Regions from separate parts of the Homo sapiens genome. Here region 2 is linked to region 1. The links come from fine-mapping of genetic effects on gene expression. A gene starts in region 1. The other region holds a variant in brackets. All regions are shown on one strand. Distances are between the middles of the regions.

Region 1 (2,903 bases):
ATATATATACTGGACCCTAAAAACAGAACTGTTGGAGTACAAGCATGCACGCGAATGCAGTCAGTAGACAAATCCACTGCAAAGTGCAATGAGTTTCTCATTCTAAAATACTTGAAGGGCACAACCAGACCCCTCCTATAAATTAAAGAACACTCTCATTTCCTTTGAAGTTTGAAAGAGTAGACTTTATAACCCTGTCTCCTTTTCCAATCGCTCTTTAAACTCCATCCAGGCCCCATTTTGTTCCACCGTAAACCCGACTTCTTAGCTACTCCTTGGATGATCAGCCAAGTAAAGTTGCATCGAACCGTAACAGTCAAAAGAAGGACAGGATAAGGACCAGGGGAGCAGAAGTCCTCCCGCCACTCCAGGCCAGTGGCTGTTTTACCTTCGCAGTACAACTTCCCGTTTTCCCCCTCTTACCTTGTACACTTTCCCAAAGGCTCCGTCGCCCAGTTCTCCTATAATCTCCCAAAAGTCTTCGGGGTTCAGGTCCCTCTTCACGTGTTCGTACTGCTTCTTCTTCTTCTCGCTCCCCAACTTGAAGATCTTACGGAAATTGAAGAAGGACATTTTTCCTCCCAACACAGAGTTCCTTGCACTTAAGGACTAAAAACAATAAAAGGCAAAGTTTCTCTTCCCTGCTCTCCCGCGCGAGCCCGGCTGGCGGCGGCGGGCGCGGCGTCCCTCGGCCCCCGCAGCTCCGGCCGGGCGGTCCCGGGAGAAGGCGGGGCGGCGACCCGGGCTCCGGCCCGCGGTGGGGGTGCTGCGCGAGCGGCCCCTCCGCCGAGCCCGGCCCGCGAGCCGCGCGGTGGGCGCCTCGCCTCCGGCCCACCCTCCGGGAGCGGCACCTGCCCGCAAGCTCGCTCCCACCCGGCCTGATCCGACGGGTCCGAGCGGTCAGGACTCCCGCGGCGGCGGCTTAGGCCCGTGTCACGGCGAGTCTCCAGGGGCGGCGGCCACTCTGGGAGAGAGAAGCGGCCGGCGGCCTCGGAGGCGGGCAGTCGAGAAGCCGAGCCCTCCCGCCTCGGGCCGCGAGCCTAGGGTCTCCTCCGCCGCCGTCCGCTCCCGCGGCGCAAGGCCCGCGCGTCCCCTCGGGTCTGGGGCGCCGCCGCCGCCGCCTGTCTCCCTCCCCAGCCCACACAGCCTCGGCCTGGAGCGCGCGCCGACGCCGACTCCGTAGCGCGCCCGCGCGCTTTCCCGGCTGCGCGCCCGCCCGGTCACGCGCCCTGCTCACCGCGCGCTCGCGTGGGGGCGTCCCCTCTGGCCCCGCGCACGCGCGCTACGTCCCTCAGACTGGCTGCCCCCGAGGGTTCGCGTGAGCGGAGCACGGGGCTCGGGGTGCGGGGGGCTGGTGTGATGGACGCATTTGTTCTTCGGTCCCTGACGATTGTTTCTCATTTGCCCTCCAAGCCCCAAATCCTGTCAGTCCACGGCCTTGATGGAGCGGCCCCCGTGGGACGACCCTGTTGATTGTGCTAGCGGATGTTGTCTCCATTCTGGATCTGGGAAAAACTGTGGAGTGAAAGCCGGACCTGTTAGGGTTGGGACCTGAAAGCGGACTTTTTCGCTCTCAGACGGGCCCCAGGTACAGTGAGAGGGGAGTTTGTGTGGTGGTTGTGAGCTTGAGCTTTGGAGAGAGAGATCTGTGACCTTGGGCAGGTGACCTCTCCGAGCCTCGGTTTCCTCGCCGTAAAATGAAGATCCTAATAGTCCCTACCAGAAGGTTGTGAATGAGACAATAGATGGAAGCCCTTTGCGCGGCCCCTGCACCCGTAAACGCTCAATCTTAGTTCTTACTCTTGTTGTTTTAAGTGTGCAGGCAAGATAGACACAGATACATAAAAACTGTTTAAGACCACTTCTCTTTTTTTTCTTTCTTTCTTTTTTTTTTTTTTTTTTTTTTTTTGAGACGGAGTCTCGATCTGTCGCCCAGGCTGGAGTGCAGTGGCGCGAACTAGGCTCACCGCAAGCTCCGCCTCCCGGCTTCACGCTATTCTCCTGCCTCAGCCTCCCGAGTAGCTGGGACTACAGGCGCCCGCCACCACGCCCCGCTAATTTTTTTGTATTTTTAGTAGAGACGGGGTTTCACCGTGTTAGCCAGGATGGTCTCGATCTCCTGACCTCGTGATCCGCCCGCCTCGGCCTCCCAAAGTACTGGCGTGAGCCACCGCGCCGGGCCCCCACTTCTCAACTGATGACTGCGACACTCCCTTGAGGGTAAAACTAACTTCTGGCCACCTCCACAACTGTAAACCTGGTGTCACTCTTGGTGACTCCACCTCAGCTAAGGCCCCCACTTCCTGATCTGCCTCCAGCCCCCTTGGGCAGCACTCCCTGGTGGGGCAGTGTGGACGTTGGCTGGAATCCGTCAGGTGGTGACCTACCTTCCCCTCCTCCACCAGACGGGAGCTCTTTCAGGCCAGTGGTTTGTTGTTCATCAAGATATCCAAGTACCCGGCAACATTCCTGGCATATAATAGGAAGGCAGATCTGGTGAATGAATGAATGAATGGCGGTATCTGGAGCAGAGACAATGTATGTATATATTGCTATTTATATAATGTCTGCCCCCCCAGTCATTTTGCCCTTCAGCCCCAAAATGGCATAGCAAAACCCCCCTTCCAGTAAGACGCTTAAGATGATTCAATTCCTTGAGATCCTTCTATTTTTTTAAGTGTTATTGCAATATATTGATATACAATAAACTGTACATATTTAAAGTGTGCATTTGGTTTTTTTGCTAGTACTTGTTTGCTTTTTTTTAAAATTATACTTTAAGTTCTGGGATACACATGCAGAACGTGCAGGTTTGTTACATAGGTATACACGTGCCATGGTGGTTTGCTGCAAGTGTGCACTTTTATATGTTTTGACAAATGTATAGACCTGTGAAAACAATA
Region 2 (2,903 bases), 74 kb before region 1:
GACATCTGGAGTGCAGAACAGCAGAGGCTTCAGCCCACCCGGTCCAGCGCTCACTCTGAGCTATCACTGTGTTAGGAGCTTGGTCTTCAGTGTTTCACCGAGTCTTCCCAACACCCCCGTGATGTAGATCTTTTTGACCTTGGTTTACAGAGGAGGAAACTGAGGCTGAAAGAGGTTGAGAACTTGCCCAAAGTCACCAGCTAGACGTGTGGGAGCAGGGGTTTGAACTCAGACTTTCTGACACCGAAATCCAATGTATCCCCATCATTCCACATGCTCTTATCAGCTGTCAGGGAGCTTGACTATGGTCCTGCCCTGCCTCTGAGTGAGGGGCACCCTTAGCAGATGAGGTGCTGCAGGCTCTTGTGCCATGACACAGGGCCTGGTGTCTGGGCTGTGAGGGTAGCCTGGAGTGCCTGGAACTGCAGATCCAGTGAGAGGTGAGAAGTGTGGCAGAGAGCAGCCTCGTGACAGCTTTTGCTCATTTCTATTTTCTTCTCTCTATAGAAGTTCTTAATTTACAAGGTCCCCCAGGCCCACCCGGCCCACGCGGGCCACCAGGTGAGTATCTTGGAGACCTTTGGAAGGTGGGGAGTTTGGGGGACAGGAGATTCAATGCACTTAGTGAGGAAGCCAAGATCCTCAGGGGTGGCATCAGCTCCCTGAGCTCAGCATGGCCTCTTCCTTGCTCTCTTCTGCAGGGCCTTCCATTCCAGGCCCACCAGGACCCCGAGGCCCACCAGGTGAGAGCCGAGCTTACCACTGGGAGGTGGGAGGGGGAGGTGAGAGGTGGGTAGCAATGGGACCCTGAGCCCAGGGCCCTCTGGGCTGGCTTATAGGAAAGAGCTTCCCTGCTGCCTCCTCCTGAGCAGAGGGTTCCTGGCTCCCCTCTTGGCACTAATAAGTCTTGGGGGTTCTCTTTCCTAGGGGAGGGTTTGCCAGGCCCACCAGGCCCACCAGGATCGTTCCTGTCCAACTCAGGTAATGTCAGGGAGTCAAGTCGCACCTGTTCTCCACCTCAGCCCTTGTCCTGCCACAGACTGTGGCCGTAGCCTTGTGGTCACAACCTACTCACCAGGCTTCCTGCTCCTGACTTCCATGGGGATATGTTTATATAATCTTCCTGCTTGCTGCACATGGAGGGAATAACCATGTCAACCCAACCACCCTGGTAGTCTGGCCTGAGGGAGGGAGCCAGCTCTGCCCTTGGGGAGCTTCTGGCCTAACCAGGGAGACCTGGTTCCTATCCTTGGGGAGCCCAGGTCTGATAAAGTAGGCAGGATACATGCGCGTGAAGTAAGTGCCGACCGTACAACATAGAAACTTGTGGAAATAACTTTAAAGCAAACATTAGGCCAGAACCTGTTCCTAGTGGAAAATCCATCCACCCATCCATTTATCCATCCATCTACCCATCCACCTATCCATCCATCCATCCATCCACCTATCCATCCATCCATCCATCCATCCATCCA[C/TCCAC]CCACCCGCCCATTCATCCACCCACCCATTCATCCATCCATCCACCCATCCAACTATTTGACAAGTATTGATTGAGCATCTATGTTGTCAGGTGCTGTGCAAAGTGCTGCTTCTTCACAAACATCAGTGTCCATACTCAAACTATTTCCTTCCTCTGCAGAAACCTTCCTCTCCGGCCCCCCAGGCCCACCTGGCCCCCCAGGTCCCAAGGGAGACCAAGGTGAGAACAGTGTATCAGGGAACCCAGAAGCCAGTATGTGTCCTCTGTTTACCTGCTGGTTGCCAGGAGGGTTTGGATGAAGCTGAATGAGCTGGGGCATTTTTGCATCCTTCTGCCTTATCCCATTAGGAACTCAGCAGCCTGGAGCAAAGGTAGAGGGGGAGGCACAATAGTCAGAAACTCTACAAAGGATAGCCACCCAACATTGGCCTAGTGAGAGGAGAGGCACAAGGAACCCCAAGTTCTATATCTGCTCTAGCATTGGAGCCCCTATCCCCTCCTCCATGGGCCCATTGAAACCACAACACCTGGTTGGTACCTGTCTCATAGCTCTCTGCCTTTTTCCCTCAGGTCCCCCAGGCCCCAGAGGACACCAAGGTACAGTAGAGCCGGCATCAAACAAAACCTGGGGTAGGGGTGGGGATGGCAAAAGCTCACCTCCCAAGAGCTTTGAGCTTGATAGAAAGGCACCTGGTGCAAATAAGCAAGAGTAGAGCAGTGTTTCTCTAGGAATGGTTGAGTGTGTGCATGGGTGTAGTGCAAGTGTGCGTGTGCGTGTGTGTGTGTGTGTGTGTGTGTGTGTGGCATCTCTAGGTACTGCCCAAAGGGCAACGCAGCCCCAGCAATCATGGATCTTGGGGAGGCTCTACAGGGCTGTTAGTGGGTGAGAAAAGTGAGGCTGACTGTCCCTCCCTTGGTGTGTTCCTCAGGCGAGCAAGGCCTCCCAGGTTTCTCAACCTCAGGTAAGGGCTGAACCCCGCCCCATTCTGGCTCTGGCCAGAGCCTCTCCAAACCCTGGCTGACTGCACTGTGTGTGTTGTTGGCTTCCAGGGTCCAGTTCTTTCGGACTCAACCTTCAGGGACCACCAGGCCCACCTGGCCCCCAGGGACCCAAAGGTGACAAAGGTCAGTGAGGGAGCAGTGAGAAGGTGGTGAGGAGTAGGGGTGAGCCTGGTGCCCAGAGCCCAGAGCCTGAAGAGATGGCAGCAAGTACTCATCAGTGTAAAGTCTTGGGAGAGAGAAGAGGCTGGAGGAAGGAAAGGCCAGAGGGTGGAAGGGACAAGGACATGGTGATATAGCCTCTGTACAAGGGAGCTGTGGTATTATTACAAAAAGGAGGCCAAGAGACATGGGACGATTGTTGAGACACACACTAATAAGTGTGGTTTGGCTTAACCAGGGAAGGCTTCCTGGAGGAGGTGAGGCAA

Direction of the effects. Positions count from the first base shown, and alleles are read on the strand shown. Sizes are in standard deviations (SD) of each study's normalised expression.
As copies of C replace TCCAC in region 2, the expression in regulatory T cells of the gene that starts at base 1,179 in region 1 goes down (large effect, 0.85 SD a copy in Bossini-Castillo 2019).

What was found. PIP is the estimated chance that this variant, and not a neighbour inherited with it, causes the effect. A credible set is the group of variants that fine-mapping cannot tell apart.
Region 2: its variant is the best candidate, but not a certain one, in a credible set for the expression of SLK in regulatory T cells (Bossini-Castillo 2019, PIP 0.74).

Annotation. Positions count from the first base shown.
Region 1 is chr10:103,965,416-103,968,318 of GRCh38, reverse strand. SLK (STE20 like kinase) reads right to left here and starts at 1,179. Exons shown (of 19, transcript NM_014720.4): 1 at 424-1,179. The coding sequence starts at 573. LOC102724351 (a long non-coding RNA gene) reads left to right here and starts at 1,274. Exons shown (of 5, transcript XR_007062282.1): 1 at 1,274-2,538. RefSeq lists silencers at 658-757, 768-817, 858-1,317.
Region 2 is chr10:104,039,143-104,042,045 of GRCh38, reverse strand. It overlaps COL17A1 (collagen type XVII alpha 1 chain), which reads left to right. Exons shown (of 56, transcript NM_000494.4): 37 at 508-561; 38 at 702-743; 39 at 928-981; 40 at 1,636-1,695; 41 at 2,047-2,073; 42 at 2,406-2,438; 43 at 2,527-2,601. Among named protein-coding and RNA genes, the nearest start is that of MIR936, 7.6 kb to the left of the region's middle. The variant C/TCCAC (reference allele first, on the strand shown) is at 1,476.